3 linked regions of the Homo sapiens genome follow. The protein of the gene in region 1 purifies or fractionates together with the protein of each later gene. This does not show direct contact. Each region holds a gene or a part of one and is shown on either strand. Other genes may lie near its edges.

Region 1 (7,674 bases):
GACGGAGTCTCACTCTGTCGCCCAGGCTGGAGTGCAATGGCACGAGCTCAGCTCACTACAACCTCCACCTCCCGGGTTCAAGCAATTCTCCTACCTCAGCCTCCCGAGTAGCTGGGACTACAGGTGCCTGCCACCATGCCCAGCTAGTTTTTATATTTTTAGTAGAGACAAGGTTTCACCATATTGGCCAGGCTGGTCTCAAACTCCTGACCTTGTGATCCTCCGGCCTCAGCCTCCCAAAGTGCTGGGATTACAGGCGTGAGCCACCGTGCCCAGCCAAAAACCCCTTACTTTTGCAGACACAAGTAATAGGTAAATAACGAGATCTTTGCTGATTCTGTTTTTTCACATTTTGCCCCAGTTGGGGCTGAAGAAGACCCTGTTAAAAGCACCCGGCTCTACCAGCAATCTCGCAAGGAAGTCCTCCTCGGGGCCTGTTTGGAGCGGGGCATCCAGTGCGTGCACATCCCCAGCAGTGGGCAAAGGTGAGGCAGCCGGCATCATGCTTGGACCCACATCTGGCCAGGTGAGGCCTGGAGTGCTGCTCAGGCCTTGGAGACTGTTTCTGCAGAACCACTTAGGCTTGGCAGGACGTCCCGGAGGGCGTGCTGTGTGCGGTGGACCAGGCTGTGGACTGAGTTGCTGTACCTGCCCTCAGTGCCTCTGTCCCATGAGGAGGGCACACTCAGATGGGTGGCTTCAGTCTACGGGGTACACATGGCCAGAAAGCATGTATGATACCCCGTGCCTGAGAACATGGACACTGGAATCACCCTCATGTCCATGTCATGAGACACCAGTTTTAAAATAGGACTATTCCAGATAATGTAGGGCATATGGCCCCATAACTCCTGGGTGCCTGTTTAAATCCATGCTCCCACACCTGTTTGAGGTCAAGCCACATTTCAACCTTGCCAAGCCACAGCTGCCATCTAGTGGTAAGGGAAAGCCTTCGCCTTTCTGCTCTTCAGAGCGAAATCCTCTTCGAGGTGCATTGGCCATGTGGCGTCTCGGGGTCGTTCAGGGCAGCATGGTGTGGATTGTGTTCACAAAATGTAAAAAGTGGGCCGGGCGCAGGGGCTCACGCCTGTGATCCCAGCACTTTGGCAGGCCAAGATGGGTGGATCGCTTGACCCCTGGAGTTTGAGACCAGCCTGGCCAACATGGTGAAACCCTGTCTCTACTAAAAACACAAAAACTAGCCGGGCATGGTGGCGGGTGCCTGTAGTCCCAGCTACTCGGGAGACTGGGCCACGAGAATGGCTTGAACGCGGGAGGCAGAGGTTACCATGAGCCGAGATTGCATCACTGCACTCCGTCTCAAAAAAAAAAAAAAAAATGATAAGTGTGAACTCTCTAATCAGATTGATCTGATCTGGAATTCTGACTCTGCCATTCTGTGATTAAGAGAGGTTTGTGTCCTTATCTTTATAGACTGAGGTGATGACCTCCTGAGATCAAGCAATCCTCCCACCTCAGCCTCCTGAGTAGCTGGGACTACAGGCACATGCCACCACACCCGGCTAATTTTTGTGGGTTTTTTTTTTTTGAGATGGAGTCTCACTCTATTGCCAGGTTGGAGTGCAGTGGCGCAATCTTGGCTCACTACAACCTCTGCCTCCCGGGTTCGAGTGATTCTCCTGCCTCAGCCTCCCAAGTAGCTGGGACTACAGGCACCTGCCACCACGCCCGGCTAATTTTTGTATTTTTAGTAGTGACGGGGTTTCACCATGTTGGCTAGGATGGTCTCGATCTCTTGACCTCGTGATCCGCCCGCCTTGGCCTCCCAAAGTGCTAGGATTACAGGCACGAGCCACTGCGCCTGGCCCACATTTTTGTGTTTTTTGTAGAGAGGATGGTCTCACTATATTAGCCAGGCTGGTCTCGAACTCCTGGCCTTGAGTGATCTCTTGCCTTGGCCTCCCAAAGTGTTTGGATTACAGGCGTGAGCCACCACTCCTGGGCTAAAGTTTTTCTTTAAGAATCCTTTACCAGATCGTCTGCGTATATTGGTAGCTCAGTATGTATTACCCTAGTTTATCTGGTCTTCTATTTTAAATAGTGCTTATGGTTAATATGACGCAGCCTCCTTGTAATTTTAAAGGAATCAACCAGTAACAATTGCGTCTTTTTTCCTTGTTCCCTGCCCACCTCTGTGACCAGACAGGTGAGACATGTGACTAGACTATCCCCTTCCATCTGCTCAACTAATGTAGATTTCTCCTGCCAACATAATCAACGAAGATAGGAGAGCTTGAATTTATGCATGCTTATGTACATGTTAGTAATTATTTTGAGAATAAGTACCTTAGAATACACTCAGCTAAGCTAAAAGCTGCCTGAGCCATCCTGTGTTTGATGATGTTGCCTGAAGGGCTTATAGAATATTGTTAATGTGTCTTATGTTTAAGGTAGATATGCTAAAGACAGCATAACTTCTGTGTGTTTGTTAAATAGCTTCATACTTTTATAATAATGTGATTTTTGTGTGTATACCTTCTAGCTAAATCAAGTGAATTTGCAAGTATTCCTGCAAATAGCTCCCGGCCTCTGTCAAACATCAGCAAGTCAGGCAGAATGGGACCCGCCATGCTGCGGCCAGCTCTGCCTGCAGGCCCTGTGGGGGCATCCTCCTGGCAGGCCAAGCGGGTCGATGTTTCTGAGCTGGCAGCGGAGCAGCTCACGGCACCCCCCTCAGCATCCCCCACCCAACCCCAGACTCCGGAAGGTGGCGGCCAGTGGCTGAACTCCAGTTGCGCTTGGTCAGAATCTTCTCAATTGAATAAGACTAGAAGTATCAGACGGCGAGATTCCTGTCTAAATTCCAAGACAAAGGTTATGCCTACTCCTACAAATCAATTTAAAATTCCTAAGTTTTCTATTGGTGAGTAATAGATACATTTTAATGTGTCTTTAAAAAATACTGAAGAAATTGCATTTAAAGTTTTAAACAATTATTGATGGCATTGATGGTGTTTTTAGTTCTTTCCTCCAACAGTGCTTTCAGGTGTGACCCGCTGTCTTCTCGCCCACGTTGTTTTGGGGGGTCACTGGAGGCTCCCTGAATGTCTTACGTTCGTTCCTGTGTGTGTGACACCCCAATGCTCGTAGGCTGCTTGTAAGGTTTTCTCTTTAGTGTTACTGTCGGGAATTTGATTATTATGTGCTTTGAGGTGGCTTTCTTTGCCTTTATCCCGCTGAGGGTTTCTTAAGCTTCTTTGATCTGTGGGTTGGTTTTTTTCAGCAAATTTGGAAAACGTTGGCCATTATTTCTTCAGCTATCTTTTCCTCTTTCCACTTTATTTCCTAGGACTCTAATCACATCTATTTCAGGCCTCTTGACGTTGTCTCACAGGACACCGAAGCTCTGTTCTTTTTTTTATTTCAGCCTTTTTTCTTTTTCTTATCTTTTTTCTTTTCTTTCTTTCTTTTTTTTTGTTTTTTGTTTTTTGAGACGGAGTCTCGCTCTGTCACCCAGGGTGGAATGCAGTGGCGCGATCTCAGCGCACTGTAACCTCCACCTACCGAGTTCAAGCAATTCTCCTGCCTCAGCCTCCCGAGTAGCTGGGATTACAGGTGCCCACCACCACACCCGGCTAATTTTTTTTTTGTATTTTTGGTAGAGACGGGGTTTCGCCATGTTGGCCAGGCTGGTCTGGAACTCCTGACCTCAAGTGACCCACCCATCTCGGCCTCTCAAACTGCTGGGATTATAGGTGTGAGCCACCGTGCCCGGCCCAGCCTTTTTCCTTGAGCTACAGTTTGGGTAGTTTCTGTTGTCAGATATCATTTCTTCTGCAGTGCCTAACAGCTGTGAAGCCCATCCAGTTAACTTTGTTTCTAACATAATAGTTTCCCCTTATTTCTTCTCATGGTACTTGGGTTTTCTTTTACATCCTCGTGAGCAAATTGATAATGGTTTTAGGGTCTACGATTCTTCTCATACCATCTTCCCCATCATTTTGGGGTCTGTTTCGACTGACTAATTTTGTTTCCGGGTTTTGGCCTCATTTTCCTGCCTCTACATTTTTCACAAGTTTTTCTTGGTTGTTGGATATTGTCAGGTGTACACTTTTGAATGTCTGGATTTTGTTGTCTTTCTCTGAGGAGTTGGGTTGGGCTTGGCAGGCAGTTAAGGTGCAGATCATCCTTCCGAGGCTTTTTATGCTTTGAAGTGGTGGGTCTAGCATAGCCTTTCCGCCTCCCGCCACCGGCGTCCTTCCCAAGGCCTCTGCTGCACACCCGTGTGTCCCGCAAGGCCCGCGAGACCCCTGCACTCCTGCTGCTGCAAGATGACACCTTCTCGGCCCTGTGAGCTCCGCTCGTTGCTCCCTGGTAAGACGGCGGTTTCTCGGCCCTGTGAGCTCCGCTCGTTGCTCCCTGGTAGTTGCTCTTCTCTTGACCTTGAGGACTCCTGCCCTGCACCTGTGCACTGCCTGGTGCTCAGCCAGAGACTCGAGATTCCCTTGGGTTCCTAGAGCTCGTTCTGTCGGAGTAGCCCCCTCCTCTCTAGTTTCTGGCCCTCAGATTGCAGCCACCTCAGCCTCCTGAGCTCCAGCCACTGCCTTCTCCAGTCAGTGAGGCCACTGGCCCCAGCAGGTGTCTGGCCATTAGTGGGTGGGTGTTTGTAAAGTTTTCATGAATTTCTTGAACAATTGTGTGCAATGCAGAAAGTTCTCAGAGCTGACTTAAGGTGAGAGGAGCGTCCTGGCCTCCTCTGTCAGGCAGATCTGCCCTCTGGGTGCTTGAGGATTTTAAGTTCTGGCAGTGCCGGCCAGCACAGGCAGCCTGCAACTCCCAGAAACTGCATTCTGAGTCCTGCTGTAGGAACAAGCTGTTCTGCTGAGTGTCTTCTCTGTGCTGGAATGCTTTGGGGGACAAGGGACATCATGATAAGACAGACCTACTCTCACAGAATTTCTGTTTAATAGGAAAAGATACGAAATGTTATCAGATGAGCAGGCCTGCAGATCCTAGCACAACAAAGGGACTAAGGGAAGATGGTGTCCTGGAGCTGGCATGTTTGGGGAGGAATTTGCATCGGGTGGTTCTTTGGCAAAGATGGTCAGGAGGTGACACGGGACTGAGATCTGAACCAGGAGACTGAGGCAGCCGGTAGGAAAGTGCAAGGGGGAGCACTCCAGGCAGAGGCAACGGCAGGAGTGCAGAGGTCCTGGGGCAGGAAGGCGTGGGACGTGCTCTGGGAGCAGCATGGGGGCCGGAGGGTGGGAGTGCAGCCGCTGCGGTCGGGATTCTGCGTAGACGTGCGACAGCTGGTCAGTACTCCTTGGTGTCAGGGACCCAGGCTTACTCCATCCTGTGCTGCCGTGATGAGCTTCTCATCCTCATGGTCTAGTGTGGCTGCACCGGCTCTGGCCCTCATACCTCCCGGCAGGAAGCCTTCTTCTAGGTGAAGAAGAGCAAATCCCCACCTTTCAAGGACCCTCACTGCAAGTTGTCCCTGTGACTCCGTTTGTGTCCCATTGAGTACGACGCTTCCCTGCACAGGATGCTAGGACACGTTGTCTTTATTCCGCACACAGCTGAAATTTCTTACTGAGAAGAGGAAAGTTGCTGTTGAACAAAAACTAGCAACCTCAGCCAGTCAGTGACCGAGGGGCAGGGTAAGAAGAGATGAAGATGGAGGGGCAGCCCGAGGCCGGCTCCCAGAGCGCCGCGTGACCAGAGCGGACCCTGGAGTACCGTCAGTGCAGGAGGACGTGCATAGGAGAGATCAGAGCAGAGCGACTTGACCTTCAGAAGGTCCCTCCACAGAGGGAAGAGCAGAGTCTCTGGGCCGAAGAGTGGTGGGGAGGGTAATGCGGACCTGGCCCTCACTGTGTTGGGGAGGAAGCTAGTGCTGGGGAAGGAGGCTGGAGCGCTGCGGTCTGCCTGACGTTCTGGTAGCTTAGGGCTCATGTGGCAGTGCAGAGAGGGACTCGAGTGTCCCTGAGGTTCTGGCGGAACCTGGGTGCTGCCACTCATGTGACAGGAGGGCTGGAAGAGGCAGCGGGCAGAGTCCACGGCCCCATTTTGGAAGTAGTGAGGGTGAGAGGCCACTTAGGCTGCAGCTGAGGGGTGGAGCAGGCTGAGAGCTCAGAGGAGAAGCCACAGCTGGAGACCTCAGTGTAGGTTTCAACAGCAGAGAGCTGAGTTTGTAGAGATGGGAGCTGTGAGCTGGGCACGGTGGCTAACTCCTGTAATCCTAGCACTTTGGGAGGCCGAGGTGAGCAGATCACCTGAGGTCAGGAGTTCGAGAGCAGCCTGGTCAACATGGTGAAACCCTGTCTCTACTAAAAATAGAAAAATTAGCCAGGCATGGTGGCGCATGCCTGTAATCCCAGCTACTTGGGAAGCTGAGGCAGGAGAATCACTTGAGCCAGGAGGCAGAGGTTGTAGTGAGCCGAGATGGTGTCACTGCACTCCAGCCTGGGCGACAGAACGAGACTGTCTCAAAAAAAAAAAAAAGAAAGAAAGAAAGAAAAGAAATGCGAGCTGTGATTGGGTGGGTTCTGCAGGGACACCCTACGGCCCAGGTCATGTGGAGGTGTGTTCAGTAGTGTTTGCTTCCCTTCTGCCTGAATGCCTGGAGCCAGGACATGCGTCTGCCATGTCTCTCCTGACCACGTTGGCACAAGTGTTGGCTGGTCTCCTGGCTGTCGGGCTGCTTGATGCCACAGGACTTCTGCTAATCCCAAATCCCTGTTGGCTTTGCCCTGTTTCCCAGAGCGTGTCCCTGCGGTCTCCTTACGCACCTCTCAGATGTGCATTTCACCTTCGGCAGGCGGTTCCTCCTCTCTCCACAATGCTGGGAACAGGACTGTCTCTTGCACGCCTTTGGTCATTCATCAGGGTCAAAACTGGTCCCACAAACTCAGCACTGGCCGGAAGAGAGGCCCCAGGGGAGCAGCCACGCTGTTGGGAACACACAGCTCTGGGAGGCACGTGGTGGTGTGCACTTTTTGGCTGAGAGCACTGGTGGTGTTGCTCATTGGCTGTGACACCAGCTGTCACCGTGGAGGAGAGGTGAGGGCTGAGGGCACTCACAGCGTGGGACCACATGAACGGTGCCCTGTAGTGGAGGCTTTCATATGTGCACTTTCTCAAAATACTCGAGGCAAGCAGCATTCTTTGTAAAACAGTCCAGTTACAAATGTTGCTATTTACTATGAGTCCATGCTGCCGGGTCACCCAGAGGATTGAGACTTGGAATTCTGGCTGTGGGCTTTGCCTCCCCGGTACTGGGAGCTGCAGTGGAGACGCGCCGTCCAGGTTTAGGGAAGAGCTGATGTGGGCCTGGGAGGCGTGCGTGCTCAGGCAGCCCTAGGGCAGTCGTGAGGGTGTCAGGAGATGGCTTGTTCGTGTTCTGTTTCATAAGAATGACCTTCCCGTGCCACCATGGAAGCTGCTGAAGAGTGCGCTCCACCCAGCTGAGGGAGAGGACAACCGAGAGGAAGGGGTCTCGGGAGAGAGGGAGCCAACACGGGAGGCGGCAAGGGAGAGGGAGGCGGCGAGGGAGAGAGAGGTGGGCTTGCCTCCACACCCGCCAGGAGTGACCAACTTGGGTCTCACAGAGACCTCTGTGAATGGTGCGGGGTCAGTGACCCAAGAATGTTCCCAAAAGACAGGGATTATGGGATGACTTAGTCACAGACCACCCCACTCCATACAAGA
Region 2 (7,674 bases), on another chromosome or scaffold:
TGGTTTTTCTTTACATCTTCTATTTCTTTGCTGAGGCTTTCTATTTTTTCAATTGCTTCAGCTGTGTTTGTAACTGCTCACTGAAGCATTTTTATCATGGCTGCTTTAAAATTTTGTCAGAAATTCTAACATCTCTGTTATCTGGGTGTGTTAGTCCATTTTATAGTGCTATTAAGGAATACCTGAGACTGGGTGATTTATAAAGAAAAGAGGTTTTGTTTGGCCCATGGTTCTGCAGGCTGTACAAGCCTAATGCCAATGTCTATTTCTGGGGAGACCTCAGGAAGCTTACAATCATAGTGGAAGGTAAAGGGGGAGCCAGCACATCACGTGGCAACAGAGGGAACGAGAGATAAGGGGGGACATCCCAGACTCTTTTAAACAATCAGATCTCATGTGAACTCATTACTGAAGAGAAGGCATAAAACCATTTATGAGGGATATTCCCCCATGACCCTCCCACTAGGTTCCACCTTCATGTTTCAATATGCGATTTGGAGGAGACAAGCATCCAAACTATATCACGGTGTCTCTTTATTTTTTAAAAATTAATTTTGAATTGTTCCAGGTTTTTGGTATTATGGGTGATTTATAAAATTGAAACCTGAACAGTTTTATACTGTGAGACTCTGGACCTTTTTAAACCTTCTTGGCTTTCTTTGACACCATTCTGTCAGAGAAAGGAGTGGCATCACCTCATTACTGCTAGGCAGAGAGAGAAGTCCAGGTTCCCCTCCCAGCTTCCATCAGTACCTGAAGAGGATGATGCCCTCATACTGCCAGGTGGGATGAAAGTCCAGGCATCCCATTTGGACTGCACTAACAACCCATAAGATGGGTTGGGGGGACTTATTACTGGCCAGTGGGGAGGAAAGCCTCAGGTTTTTACTTGGCACTGTCTGATACCTTCCTGGCAGGGGAGCTGGGGCACCTCATTACAGTGCTTGCCAGGGTGGAAGCCTACGCTCCCCATCCTGCCTTTGCTGGTGTGAGGAGTGGTGGGGGCCAATGTTTTTTCTGTGGTGTTTGGCTGGAGTAAAGTGGTTATTCTCTAAAAGATTTTTGGCTTGCTAGGCTGCATCTTTCCTGATCCTTTGGTTAGAGAGATTATACTTTTGTTGGGGTGCTTTATGTTTTTGTTTTGTTTTGGTCTGTGCTCACTGACATTTCCAGGTTACTAGATTCTTCAGCTGCCGGGAAGAACCTCAGCAGCTGAGATATATGAGGCAAAAAGAAAACCTAGGAAACACACCACTAGGTTATTCTTTTGGACCTGAAGTCCCTAAATAGTCTGCCTTTTCTCTACCTTTCAGAGTCTTCTTATGTTTGTTTTATAGATAATGCCCAGGGTTATTAGTTGTACTTAACAGAAGGAATAGAGAAAAATATATCGATTCCATCCTTGTTAGAAGCAGAGGATATCAGACATACTTATTTTCTTAGTCTGTGTAGGCTGTCTGTAAGCCACAATGCAGAGCTCTCTGGGAAAACATGGATTGGAGAATGGGGTCTGGAGCCAAGGCTGAAGTAGAGTCTCCTCCATTCCAGATCTAGGACTTGGGACCCACACGCTCTAGTATGTGTACAAAGCACATAAAGTTAACAATTTAGATGAAGTAGACCAATTCCTCAAATCCCATGAACTATCAAAACTCACCGAAGATGAAGTAGATAACCTGAATAGTTCTACAACTATTGTTAGAAGTTGAATTCAAAGTTAAAAAGCTGCTGAAAAAAGAAATCTTCAGGCCCAGATGGTATTACTGGTAAATTCTACTAAACAGTTAGAGAAGAAGTAACACCAATTTTACATATCTATTCCAGAAATAGAGAAGGAGGAAACACTTGTCAACTCATTTTATGAGGCCAGAATCATCCTAATCCAAAACCAGACAAGAACAAACCATAGACCAATATAGATGCAAAAACCACCAGCAAAGTATTACCGAATAGAATCTGGCAGTATGTAAAAATAATCATACAGCATAATCAAGTAGGGTTTATCCCACAAATGCAAGCCTGATTCATGTCTATAACTCGATAATTAAAAATAAATTATTATAATCTGCCAAACTAACAGCAAAAACTGCATGAACATTAAAAAAATCACATGATCATATCAATTGATGCTTTGGCATTTGACAAAATTCAGCATCTGTTTATGATAGAAACTTTCAGCAAACTGGGAATACAAAGGAATTTACTCAACTTTATAGAGAGTATTTTTAAAAATCTAACATCATACTTAATGATGAAAGACTAAATGCTTTTCCCCCAAAACTGGAAATGAGGCAAGAATGTTCACCCTCACTATTCCAATTTATGATCATAGAAGAATTCCTAGGCAGTGCAGTAAAACAAGAGAAAAAAAGTGCATGTAGTTGGGGGAAAAAAGAAGTAAAACTGGGCCTGCTTGTAGATGACAATGTGATTGTATAGAAAATCCTAAGGAACGTATCAAACAAAACGAAACAACCCTCCCAGAACTAATAAGTGAGTTTAGCAAAGTCACAGGATACAAGGTCAGTACGTAACAATTTTATTTTTATATACAAGCAATGAACAATGGGGGAACTGAAAGTTTTAAAATACCATTTACAACAGTTTTTTTTAAGTACTACTCTACCAAAACACGTACAATATCCACATGCACTAAAAAGTAGAAAAAAGTGATATAATAAATCAAAGGAGACCTAAGTAAATATGTAGATTAGAAGACTAACAGATTAAAGATGTTAACCATCCTCAAATTGATCTGCAGACTTAAGGCAGTTCCAATCACAGTCCCAAAAGGACAATTTTGTAGATAAAGACAGACTGATCCTAAAATTTATATGGAAATACAAAAACACTAAAGTAGCCAAAACAATTTGAAAAAGAAGAAAGCTCAGTGAATCACACTACCTAATCTTAAGACTTACTCTAAACTACAGTAATCAGTGAGCAAAAGGCATGTAGATCTTTGGAGCAGAAGAGAGAGTCCAGGAATAGATTCATAGAAATATAGGCCAATTAATTTTTTACATAGGTGCAAAGGCAGTTCAATGGAAAAGGTTACATCTTTACAGTAAATGGTGTTGCAGCAATTGGACATAGATAGGCAAAAGAGGGACCCTTGATCTAAACCACACACCTCACACAAAATTTTAACTCTAAATGGATCATAGATCTAAATGTAAAAGGTAAAGCTGTAAACTTTTAGAAGAAAACATAGTGGAAAAATCATTTTCTGGGATTAGGTAAAATGTTCCTAAACATGCACCAAAAGCAAGGCTCATAAAAGAAAGAATTGACAGATTTCTCATGTGGCAAATGACTAGCGTCCTGAATATATGAAGGACTCTCTAAATCAAATAGTAAGAAAACAACCCAATTAAAAAATGGACAAAAGACTTTAACAGACATATCACCAAAGAGGTATAGAGATGGCAAATCAGTACATTGAAGGGGATCAACAGCAGTAGCCATTACAGAAATGCAAATTAAAACCATGATATCTCTGCACACTTAAAATGACTAAAATAAAATATGATACTAAGTGCTGATGGTTTGAGGAGCAACTGGAACTCTCATACACTGCTAGTAGGAATGCAAAATGTACAACCACTCTAGAAAACTGTCAGCTTCTTAATAAACATTTACCACTGACCCAACAATTCTACTCCTGCTATCTGCTTTAAAAAATGAAAACATGTCCACACAAAAACCCGTATACAAATACACAGAAACTCTATGAATAATCTCGCGATGGCTCACGCCTGTAATCCCAGCACTTTGGGAGGCCGAGGCAGGCAGATCACAAGGTCAGGAGTTCAAGACCAGCCTGGCCAATATGGTGAAACCCTGTCTCTACTAAAAAATACAAAAATTAGCCAGGCATGGTGATGGGCGCCTGTAGTCCCAGCTACTCAGAGGCTGAGGCAGGAGAATCGCTTGAACCCAGAAGGTGGAGGTTGCAGTGATCTGAGATGGCGCCACTGCACTCCAGCCTGGGCGACAGAGCCAGTCTGTCTCAAAAAATAAATAAATAAAATTTAAAAACTGGCAACAACCGAAATGTCCTTCAACAGGCAAATGGATAAACCAACTGATACATACTTACAATGGAATACTACTCAGCAATAAAAAGGAATGAACAGTCAATACACAGAACAATTTGGATGAAACTCAAAGGCATTAAACTGAATGAAAGAAGTTGGTCTCAAAACAATACATGCTATATGATTCTATTTACATGACATTCTGGAAAAGGCAAAACTATAGTGATGGAGAACCTATCAATGGTTGCCAGAAGTTAGGAGTGAGAGGAGCCTGTGACTAAAAAGGGGCAGCACCAGGGAGTTCTGTGGGAGATGGAACTGTTCTGTGTTCTTGACTGTGGTTATTCCAATCTATACATGTATTATAATTCAACTGTCTACTAAAGAAAAGGTCATTTTTAATGAATAAATAACAATAACAACACAGCAAATTGCTGCTGAACTGTCCCCACACTGAAATTGTGCTGAGAATTTTCTAGTTTACCTGTAAGCAGCTTCACTACCATACATTTAGCCAAGTTTCCATGACAGCAGGCAATTAGCATTCAGGAGGGCCTTTGAGTGGTTTGGCGGTAAGGCAGTTGCTCAGTTCAGCCATCTTTACCTTAGACATTAAGATATCCAAAATAAATGATTTTTCTGGGAAAATAAAATTTCTTTCTAAAATATTTCAATTTTAACTGTAAGCATTCCACAAGTATGTGGTTAGGCTGGTGTATATCAAATGAATTAACTCTTCCATTTAAAAATACATAGAGTAAAGCTTGTGAACAATCTCTGGCTTAGAGAGTGTTTTCACCAAACTATAAGACTGTGTTACACGTGGACATCAGATACCAGCTTAGCTCCTCCTTCTTTTGCTGCCTTTTCCTCCCCTATAGGAGGTTGTGGCTCACTGGATTGCTGAAAGCCGCATTGCCATTGAGAAGATCCGCTTGTTGACTCTGAAAGCTGCTCACAGCATGGACACTCTGGGCAGTGCTGGCGCTAAGAAAGAGGTGAGGCTACCTTCTCCCCTCAGACCACCAACTGCTGAGCCTTCTCCAGTTCTCTCACCTGTTGGACATTTCAGTTTTCATGGCATCTTGATGGCACTCAGAATATTGGAAGCCCCCATGTGATTTTGGGTTATAAATTATAAATGCCTGTCACTTGCTAGTCTCCTAGCAAGTGCTTTAGGGAATGATTTTCAGGAGGGAGAATATCTTCAGCATTCTTAAGATACAGCAACAAGGAATGGGGGAAATCATAGGCTTTACACAGCCCTGGAACTGCACCCACTCTGCCACTTTCTTCTAGCCTTGTGATCACGGGCAAAGTACTTAACTTTTCTGCCTAAGGCCTAGGGTTGTTGTGAAGAGTAACCAAGATGATGTACATAGAATGTGCAGAAGCCACGTACAGTGGCTCTCGCCTGTAATCCAAGCTACTTGGGAAGTGGAGGTGGGAGAATTGTTTGAGGCCAGGGATTCGAGACCAGCCTGGGCAACATAGTGAGACCCTGTCTCTTAAAAAAAAAATTAGCCGACATGGTAACTTGTACCTGTAGTCCCAGGGAGGCTGAGGCAGGGGGATTGCTTGAGCCCAGGATTCTGAGGCAGCAGTAGTGAGCTATGATCACACCTGGGAATAGCCACTCCACTCTATTCTGGGTGACAGAGTGAGAGCCTGTCTCAAATAACAAAACAAAAAATGCACAGCATGATACTGCTACATAGTAAATGTTTCATGAAAGAGACCTCTCATCCTTTGCTTTCTTATGTTTCTGGATTATATGAAATAAAGACATAATCATTTAATTCTAAAAGCCCATAAAACTGCTAAAAGAAACCTGATTAATAGCGCAAAGACCCTTGGACTATTTTTATGATCCCTAAGGTGATGAGTGTGATTTATCAGCTGCCTGAAATCCTTTTGGAAACAAGACAAGTTAGAAATAAATGGATAAAATGTGATTTGGAAGAGGTGTCTCTTTCCAGAGGGTCTGTATTGACTGAAATATGGCATTGCAGCAGGATCTCTTTGTTGGCTTTTGTTAAAGATCCTGTTTTAGTGGTGACTTGGATGTGGGAAAGTTTCCTTGTTTCATTTCCCAGTTTTGCCACATTGTGTATAGTCTAAGAAAGAAGCATTCTTTTCATATTTTGCTTATATAGATTGCAATGATCAAAGTGGCTGCCCCACGGGCTGTCAGCAAAATCGTTGACTGGGCCATCCAGGTGTGCGGAGGTGCTGGTGTTTCCCAGGATTACCCTCTGGCTAACATGTGAGTAGATGTCATTTAAGAATCATCTACGTTTGATAGGCGTGGAGGTAAAAAATCTACAGATGCCTTGACATTAATTGCTTATGTTTATTTTCAGTGTAATTGAAGGCTAAATGAAGTGATATACATTAATATAGAGCTCAACACCAAGAAATAGTTGCTCTTATTATTACAATAATCATTTCATTCCATTATGTTAATTTTTACACTGAGGGGTCCCACTGAGGATTCCTGGGCTGTAGATACAGCATGGGGTTTCGCTGAATTTGTAGCAGGACATGTCAGTGACTATCTAATATATAGATCCTGATGACTGGGAGGCAGAAAGGAACATTCTCCATTCCCCATCTGTCCATCTCCACACATAATTACAGTGTCACCTTCTCTATCACAATGGAGATAGAGTCTCATCCTTCATCAATTTTAAACCTTAAGAAAGAACTAAATATATAGTATCATACCAGTCACTGCCTGTTCTAAGTTCTAGCAACATGTAGTAAACTGTAGCAAACCAAGAATGAGATGAACTCCACTGTACTTTGGCATTTAACTTTCCCAAGTTGGAAACTTTAAGATGGCATTGCAGAAGCCCTTTAGCTTATTTTCCTGGTACCCTTTTTCTTACCCTGACCTTGGTGGAATTTAAGAATTAATATAGTCTTGGTTGACAATCAGAGTGACTGATGTCAAAGTATCATGTTCCTCTTCCATAACTCCCTGTGTTCCCTGATTCTTTTGCTTTTTCAGGTATGCTATAACCCGAGTTTTGCGTTTAGCAGATGGACCTGACGAAGTTCATCTTTCAGCAATCGCAACAATGGAGCTGCGGGACCAAGCCAAAAGACTGACAGCCAAGATATAAGGAGGGTGGCACTGCCACATCCCACTGGCAGAAACTCTCCTTTATACAAACTTCATTGGCTCCAACATTTGAATCTCATATTTTTGTAGCAGTTTGAGCACAGGGTTAATTATTCATTTGTGGTAAAGATTATAGCATCTATTTTGATCAGTGGGTTTTATTATTTCAAGGGTCACACAGGGTTAAGTTCAGTAAGAAATGCTGTAGCTGTTGTCATTCAATCTAGTGCCTCCTTGAGGCCAGGAGTTCAGGACCAGCCTGGGCAACATAGCGAGACCCCCATTGCTACAAAAAATTTAAAAATGAAACAAGTGTGGTGGCACATGCTTGTAGTCCTAGCTACTTGGGAGGCTGAGGCAGGAGGATTGCTTGAGTCTAGGAGTTTGAGGTTACAGTAAGCTGTGATCGTGACATGGCCTCCAGCCTGGGTGACCGAGTGAGACTGTTTCTAAAAATAAAAACAAAAAATAAATTTCTTCTTGAGGTGGGGTGGAGGTGGGGAGCAA
Region 3 (8,401 bases), on another chromosome or scaffold:
GCTGAGAAACGTGTCATTAGGCAATTTTGTCGGTTTCAGAATATCACAGAGTGCACTTACACAAGCCTAGATGGTATAGCCCACTACACACCAGGATTATATATTATAGCCTGTTACTCCTAACCTACAAACCTGTGCCACACATTACTGTACTGAATACTATAAGCAACTGTAACAAAATGGTATTTGTGTAGCTAAACATATATCTAAACATAGAACAGATACAGTAAAAATATGGTATTATAATTTATAGGACCACCACTGTATCTGTGGTGTGTTGTTGACTGAAATGTCACGCGGCACATGACTTTATTTGTTTAGAGGTTCTAGCAAGGGAACTTAGCTATGAAGAAAAGTCCTTACCTTTTTAAGGTTATGTGAAGTTATGATCTCTAACTGATTTGGCAGCATCAGGAAGTGTAAACACAGAAAGGTGAGGGGGGAAGGGTTTGCCATGTGTTCATATCAGTTTAGTTAGCTTAATATCAAAAGATTATAATTTAGATAACAAAGTGTTATAATAAAAGTAAAAATTCTGGTCAATTCTCTCTTCCATATTCCTTTTCTCTGCCACTTTCTTAAGTCATTGACGATGACTTAAGGTTCCTCAGGTGCAGCATACTTTTACCTATTTTCTCCTTTGTTAAGACTTAGACACTAAGATCTCTAAGAACAGAGGCCCTGTTTGTCTTGCACATTATTTTATCATAGCGTCTAGAAAAGCCTGGCACATGGCAGGAAGGCAAGAACTATCTGTTGAATAAATTTAGTCTATATTGGCAGTTGCTTCAAGTACTGGCTAAAGGGTCTGGGCAGAGTATTGGAAGGATAATTATTTTTTAAATCTTGCTTCTGCCACTTAGTATCTGTGGGATTTTGGAAAGTTACTCAATTTCTAAGACTTGGCCGGGCACGATGGCTCACGCCTGTAATCCCAGCACTTTGGGAGGCTGAGGTGGGCGCATCACAAGGACAGGAGATCGAGACCATCCTGGCTAACACAGTGAAACCCCGTCTCTACTAAAAGTACAAAAAATTAGCCAGGCGTGGTGGCAGGCGCCTGTAGTCCCAGCTACTCAGGAGGCTGAGGCAGGAGAATGGCGTGAACCCAGGAGGTGGAGCTTGCAGTGAGCCGAGATCATGCCACTGCACTTTAGCCTGGGCAAGAGAGCAAGACTGCCTCAAAAAAAAAAAAAAAAAAATTTCCAAGACTTGTCTGTTTTCTTGTATTGGATGGGCACGATACTTGGACATGATACTTTTTGAAATTATTGTTATGAGCATTACATTTTTAAAATGTAGTGTTTTTAGCACATAGGAGGCAATAAAAAAAACCTGCTCCTTCTCCGAACACTCCCTGCCTCTCTACAACATACCTTTTAGTTGGAAGAGCCTAGGAAATACCTAGGAAATGTGTTATTCAAGTTTTTTCCTTCTGTTTTTGGTCTGCTCCTTTACAATCAAAGCAAAGAGGCCTTCAAGTTGAGAACTAACTAGTTCCCAAAGGACTGATGGGTTCACTGTAAATAGTGTTTGGCACTTAGAACCTTTATGCCTGACACACAGTTCAACACATATTTTTTGAAAGAGTAAATTAATTAACAAGGTACTGAATAAGGATGATGCTCCAACCAGATAATTATGGGATGGACATGCTTTATTTATTTTTAGAAACAGTGTCTTGCTCTGTCATCCAGGCTGGAATGCGGTGGTAGGATCATAATTCACTGCAGGCTTAAACTCCTGGGCTCAAGGGATCCTCCTGCTTCAGCCTCCCAAGTAGCTATGACTATAGGCTTATGCCTCCATGCCCAGTAGACATGCTAAATGTGTGAAAAAGTGGGCAGATTTTATCAAATGAGAGGTTTGGAGTGATGGTGTGTCCGAATGCGTGATTTCAAAGCGTTCTCATTCATTCGTTCAATCACCATCTACTGTGTATCTACCTTGCATCAACCATAATACTAGCATGGATGTATCTCTGCACCCCCATGTTAGTGCAATTAGTCAATCACAATAATAATTAGAGAACAGAAGGATATATGAGTAACAAAAGGAAATCAGTAACTGCTTATTGGTATGTGAAACAGCATGACATCCAAGTATGTCAAGTAGTGTGATACTGTCTGGAGTGCATTTAAAGGAATCAGAAGAGATGAGGCTCAACAAGTAGTAGGTAGGTAGGGGAATTTAGAGGAATGGGAAGAGACAAGGCTCAACAGGTTTAGGTGGCCATGTGAGTTGGCACATGTGGAACTTCAGGTAAGATATTTCTTAAATAGACTGAAGAAACTGACACAGAGAAAACTTAAGTATATAAGATAAAGTAGGTCAGTAATGCCTATTCTTAGTTCTAATTCCCCATCTTCTTCTAAATTGGTCCATGTATTTCATTTCACAATTACACATAAACCTCTACAATGGTCACTGATTATTTACATACTTAGAAACTTCTAAAATGAGGCCAGATCATGAAGAACCATGTATGCCAGGTTGAGAGTTCTTAATTTCATCCTTTAGGGTAGCGATGGGGGAGTTACTGGAAGATTTTAATGCAAAGAAAAGACAATCACATTTTGGTTTCAGAAGGATCTGAATTGGAGAGTCAGGGTATAAAAGACAGAGAATCAGCTAAGAAGTTACTAAAACAGTCTAGTATAACAGAGATCATAAAGGCTGGAACTAAGGCAACAGAAGTGGGGTTAGAGATGGGATGTGTTTGAGAGATAAAAGTAGATTAGGCTTGATGAGGGAAATAAGACAGAAGGAGAACTCAGAATCACAGCTTTCTGAGCGGAGCTTCTGGACATGTGGTGAGGCCATTAACGGATATAGGGAACAGTATGGATTAAAGATGTAGGATGCTGGGCAAGGGCAAGAGAAGTTCAGTATTGGCCATGGTGAGTTGGCATCTGTGGAACTTCAGGTAGAGATATTTCCTGAATAGACCAAGGAAACTGACACAGAAAACTTAAGCATATAAGACAACATAGGTCAGTAATGTCTACCCTTAGAACAATTCCCCATCTTCTTTTAAATTTCTCCATATATTTCAGTTCACAACCACACATAAACCTCTTCAATGATTACTGATTATTTACATAGTTAGAAATTCTACTATGTATACTTGGAAAAAAATAAAATATTTCTAACAGCAGCTTGTTTGTTAATAGGGTAAACATGTCAACAATTATTGTCACAAAAGTGGTCTGAAAGAACCTCTTTGGTAAAAGTAATAGTGTAATACTTTCCTGTTATGTACTTAGGAATGACTGGCATTTTCCCTAAGGATAAAATATTCAGCTGTTGATAGCTAGACCATGTTAGTGTTGACCTCAGATTGGGGTTTACCAATGCAGAGGCTCAGGCCAATCAGTAACTTATACAGTGGAACCCATAGACCAGTAGCAATGATGGCTGATAACATGTCTTGAGAATTTGGTAATTCCACTGCCCAGTGGACGTGGGGCAGCAAACTGGGCACCAAACCACAGATGGATTGCAGTACACTGAAGGAATTCATTATAGTTTTGTGAAATTGGAGGCTGGCTTGACAAAGATGAAGCCTGCTGGGATTAAAAACTTGTGTGTTCTTGGCAAGAGCATGTTGCTGCAGAATTTCACCAGCCATAGTGGGGAAAAAAGAGGGGTGAGGGGGCGTGGGGAAAATGGGAGACCACAAAATTCCTGATATGATACATAAAATGTTAAATATCTATCAGCTTTGCATCCTTTGAGAGTCACCAGATTGAAGCACAGTATTTTGGATTTGGCTGGCAGATGGTGTACACAGACTTTCTGAGAATGTTAGCATTTCATTTGAAACTAGCAAGATTACATGTGACTATCATGGTAACTTAGCACTCACATATTTTTCAACTTATCCCTAACCCTGGGTTGAATGTAGAGGCTCTAATAACATATAAAAGGCTTTGTTAATGTATGGTCTGGGTCTCATTGAATAGTATTTCAGGATGTAATACTTCTTTTAAAATGTCCACAGGGCAGTGTCAACGTCTTTCCATGGAAATCTGGCTCACCCAATAAGAGAAAAGAGGCCAAAGGTAAGAAAGACTAAACCAGGGGAGATGGCAGGCAGTGATGTCTGGACTGTTTGAATGGGACTTCTCCATTTACCGCCCCTCTCACTTCCTTCTATGGTCTGGACCTTTAATCACCACAGCAGTCAGCCATGTAGGGTCAAGCTAATCGCTGTTGACATCATCCTACTACTTCCCTTTTCAAATTCCAGTGAAGCTATGTGTTTCCTGTCCTATTCCACACCCTAGAGAATGAATACCGGCCAGCTAGTATCTAAATTTAGAATGGCAGCAACGTGTCGGGTTTTCGGAGTAGAGATAAACAAAACCAGGTGACATTTCCAAGCCTCTCAAGGAAAGGGGGGAAAAAACCTTTCTGGGGTAAGTAAATAAGGAGAGCTTCAATAGTTCCATGGTAGAGAGAGGCCTGCTGGAAGGTTCAGAAAATAGGCCGTTTGGAACCTTCTCCTTTAAGCCAGGAGGGCGGCTTTGGGAGGCGTCTTGAAATACATTCTTGACTCTGCTGGGAAAGCTCGGGGAGCCAGAGGCCTAATACCCCCCACTTCAGGGGAAGCTGTGAAGGCAGCTGCACCTCCTTTGTCAAGCTGTTGGTTTCAACCACAGACACGAGGACACACTTGAGGTGGGGGGATAAGGGGAGAAGCCTGCCGCCCCGCCCCACCCCCGCCAGCACACCGCCCTCGCCATTCCTCTCCCGCCCCGCCCCGCCCGGCGTCTGTGACCCCGCGGGCCGAGCCTCAGGCGACCTGTTGGCAGGGAGAGTCACGTGATGCGCCGGCTGTGCACTCCCCTCGGGCGGGCCTCCTGTTGCGCCCGCCTGGCGAGTTCCATCACGTAACGCGCGGGCGCCGCCCAGCTCTTCCCTCGCTGAGCGAGGGAGGGCGGGCGTCGAAGAGGAAAGGGAAGGGGAAAGGGGCGGGAGAAGGGAGGAGGGGCGGTGTCCGAGTCACGTGACCCGGGGCAGCCCGGAAAGCTCCGAGGAGGAGCCTGGCGCCGCCATTTTCCTGCAGCTGCCTGTTCCTCTTACCCTGCCCGGCTCCAGCTGACCCGGGAAGGGGTGGGCTGAACTGAGGCGGGGGCAAGGGAGTGCCCGACATCTTGTCCGACTCCGCGGGTGACACGAGCCGGTTCTCTCTGGACTGGTGGCAGCGCGCGGCCCCGAACCGCGCCCCAGGCCGGCAGGCGGGGAAGGAGCCGGTGGGGGTAGGGGGTGCGGTGGGGGGTGGGGACCCTCCGGCTCTTGGGGGTCCCAGTCCCCGCCGGCTGCTGAGCGGGTGGGGTGGTGGAGGAGCTGCAGAGATGTCCGGCCAGAGCCTGACGGACCGAATCACTGCCGCCCAGCACAGTGTCACCGGCTCTGCCGTATCCAAGACAGTATGCAAGGCCACGACCCACGAGATCATGGGGCCCAAGAAAAAGCACCTGGACTGTGAGTGAAGCCGACCGCGGCCCCCGCTCCCCGGCGCCCGCGCGACCCGCGCGCGTCCTTCTCTCTCTCTCTTGTCTTTCACCCTTCTACTGCCTCTTCCCTCCCTGCGTCTTCTCTGGCACGGCCGGTCCTGTGCCCGTTGAGCTGTGTTCTTTTGCTTCCATCACACCTGCCTTCACGGCCTCCGCTCCCCGTCTCAAAATCTGACAAGCCACTCCCCTCCCTATTCCTAGGGGACCCTCGTCTCCCTGCCCGGTGCGCTACCACACCCCATCATACCCAACCAACTTGCTTCCCCACCTGGCTTCTCACCCCCTACCCGTCTCCACTGCAGCCTTCTGCTCTTCCTTCCCACCCGTCCGGTGCCGCCTCGTCGCCCTCGTCTGAGCGTCTCCAAGCCCCATTGTTTCTTCATCAGCCTCCTTCGGGTTTCAGTAAACGCCTGGTTCCTTGCATCCAGATCCTTGTTATCCCTCCGGGCTGCCTCCCTGGAAGGGATCCCCCACTTCCTTTGCTCCACTAGCTGCTTCGCCCATCCCTTCCTGGCTTTCTGTTCCACCTTCCCTCCTGCTTTTGGGTTACCTTTTCATCGCCTCTATAGTAGCTTCAGTGTAGTTTCTTCGACTCATTTTAAATACCATACCCAGTTACCCGACTTTTATTTCAGATTACCTTCTTTGTGGGAGTGAAAGTAAAAGGATTCAATTTGGTGTAGGGAAAGCTTTCTGGAAAGTTGGGATTTTTATTTGCCTCTGGTGGAATTTAATCGTTGTGTTGTCCATACTTTTGACTGGGGTGAGTTTGTGACTGTCAGCTCTGCCCCCCAGCTTTTCACATGGGGATATGGAAAAAGGCATTTTGCTGATACTCTTATCAGTTCCTGGAACTGTTAATTCTGGCGGCTTGAATTCAGAAGCTTGAGTGTTAAGCGTAGACTGTTGGAATTCCAAATGGATTAATAAATTTACTTACAAATAACATACATCCCTTAAAAAAATTGGCAAAATGATGTTTGATGATGCTTGAGTTTGGATGTTTTAATTATGCCAGTTACCTTTTGAGGAACTAGCTTTAGCTTCTCTTACACGACATAGTATTCGTCCATTCGCTAACGTAGATACAATTAGTAGAGCTAACTCCTCGTAACTTTTTTCTAACCTGGAAGTCACCTGTAATACCCTCCTTTTTCTTTGCGCTCTTTTACCCCAGGGTACAAAGCTCATTGGATCACTCAAGCCAATGGAGCTTAGACCTGAAACTTTTCAGGGAAAAATAGGGCAATAGTCACGATAAGTAAGTTCCCTTTTTAAATGACTGGACACATTAGTCTGACTGACTTTCATCATACATGAAAGTTACTTTGTTTTACTGTTTGAAGCAAGAGTGAGCATGCCCTGAAAGATAATTCACTGTCTGGAAGCCTGTTTTGATTTCTCATTTGGACTTTGGCCGTAAAGTTTGCACTTTAAAAAAAATGTACGAAATGTAGATTCTTCCAAGTTACTGTGCTCATGAATGCTGTTAGAACAAGTTTTTGCTACACAGAAGCCTATTATTCTTTGTGATTGTTCCTCCACTGTGGAAAAAAGTTTTAAATAAAAAAGCATTAGTGCTTGATTCTTTCAGATATGCATGCAGGCTGCTTTTAAACTCTCAGTCCTTGCTTGTCTTAGAGAATGGAGAATATGTTTAAATGGTGACACTCTTATGAACAGAAAACTTTTTAAAATGCATCGTAAAGCCATATGTGATTTTTTGATTATCTGATACGTGTAGTAGACGTTTCTGCTATTTACGGCTCTTCAAATACTACTTGGTTTGCCCTACCAAATCTTACAGTTTGTCCTGACACTGTGTTAATTCTTTTGTTAGTTGCTTTTGGTTTTTTTTTGTTTTTTTTTTTTGTATGGGAGTATGAAGAAACTAGTTGTGACTGTGTGAACTATTTTCCTCTTTCCTCATTCAAAATAAGAATCGATAAGGCTTTTAAAAGTTTTTTTTGTAAAGGTTTGTGTCTTATTTCAAATGTAGCAGTGGTTCTTTTAAAGCATTGTCAAAAAGAGGAGAAAATAGGTAGGGTTAGAAGAGTGCTATTTGCATGTTGTTTCATAAATGTTATTAGCTATTTCTCTTGTTATAGCCACTACTGCAGATAGATGGTAACTGGGATTAGGTTTGGAGGATAATCTTGCATTTGTCGTTCTTTTTCTCTACCACTTCTGTGTTTACAAGCTCCCACGTTTTTGGAACTTGAATATACCTGGTAGTATTTGATTTAAAAATATATGTGTCGTTAATGTGCTTCTGTTTCTTTTCAATGAGGTTTTAAAATACAGGGATACTATTTTCCCTACATTGTTGATTAAAATGTCCTGTAATCAGTTCTCACTAATAAAATACCTTTATCTTAGGTAAAGTCTGACCAGTGAGTGGTTTACTAAACAAATACCTTCCTTGCACACACTAACATGCTTTGAGAAAATTAAAAAGTCTTCTACGGACAGTTCATGGTGTTGACATCATGAACTTTAGGCTTTAATACAGAAACCTGTCATTTCAAGTAATTTTTTGTCTTTTAGGAATTTTTCTTTATAGTGAAAGCTTAGTTTATGTGCACCTTTTAATGCCCCTAGCAACTGATGCTTATTTATATGAATCTAATGAAAATGATTTCATTTTAAAATGGCAGCATTTAACAAAAAATATGCTTAGGACTGTTGTTTTTCGTATAAGCCCTTAGAGTGTGGAGGTGGTTTCTGTCAGTTTCTCGCCAAGATCTTTCCACATTAGGAAGTGATTATTAATAATTCATGAATTATGGCTTAATTCATACTACATTATATACTTACTGAAGAAAGATTTTTTTGCTTTGCTTATACTGTAGGTGTTAGTGGATAATAGTGTTGACTAG

What was found. Proteins that work in one complex are often made in the same cells at the same time.
Region 2: the proteins of GTSE1 (region 1) and ACAD11 purify together in Homo sapiens (co-immunoprecipitation; 4 studies listed by BioGRID and IntAct, with this or other methods). This does not show direct contact.
Region 3: the proteins of GTSE1 (region 1) and PICALM purify together in Homo sapiens (affinity purification with mass spectrometry; 3 studies listed by BioGRID and IntAct, with this or other methods). This does not show direct contact.

The regions. Positions count from the first base shown.
Region 1 is NC_000022.11:46,313,529-46,321,202, forward strand, and holds part of GTSE1 (G2 and S phase-expressed protein 1), read left to right. Parts: intron 1-361; coding exon 362-485; intron 486-2,503; coding exon 2,504-2,884; intron 2,885-2,982; exon of another isoform or gene 2,983-4,335; intron 4,336-7,674. UniProt on the Homo sapiens protein: May be involved in p53-induced cell cycle arrest in G2/M phase by interfering with microtubule rearrangements that are required to enter mitosis. Overexpression delays G2/M phase progression.
Region 2 is NC_000003.12:132,558,465-132,566,138, reverse strand, and holds part of ACAD11 (acyl-CoA dehydrogenase family member 11), read left to right. Parts: intron 1-4,921; coding exon 4,922-5,038; intron 5,039-6,196; coding exon 6,197-6,306; intron 6,307-7,053; coding exon 7,054-7,168; 3' UTR 7,169-7,674. UniProt on the Homo sapiens protein: Acyl-CoA dehydrogenase, that exhibits maximal activity towards saturated C22-CoA.
Region 3 is NC_000011.10:86,065,740-86,074,140, reverse strand, and holds the start of PICALM (phosphatidylinositol-binding clathrin assembly protein), read left to right. Parts: upstream 1-5,056; 5' UTR 5,057-5,360; coding exon 5,361-5,490; intron 5,491-8,401. UniProt on the Homo sapiens protein: Cytoplasmic adapter protein that plays a critical role in clathrin-mediated endocytosis which is important in processes such as internalization of cell receptors, synaptic transmission or removal of apoptotic cells.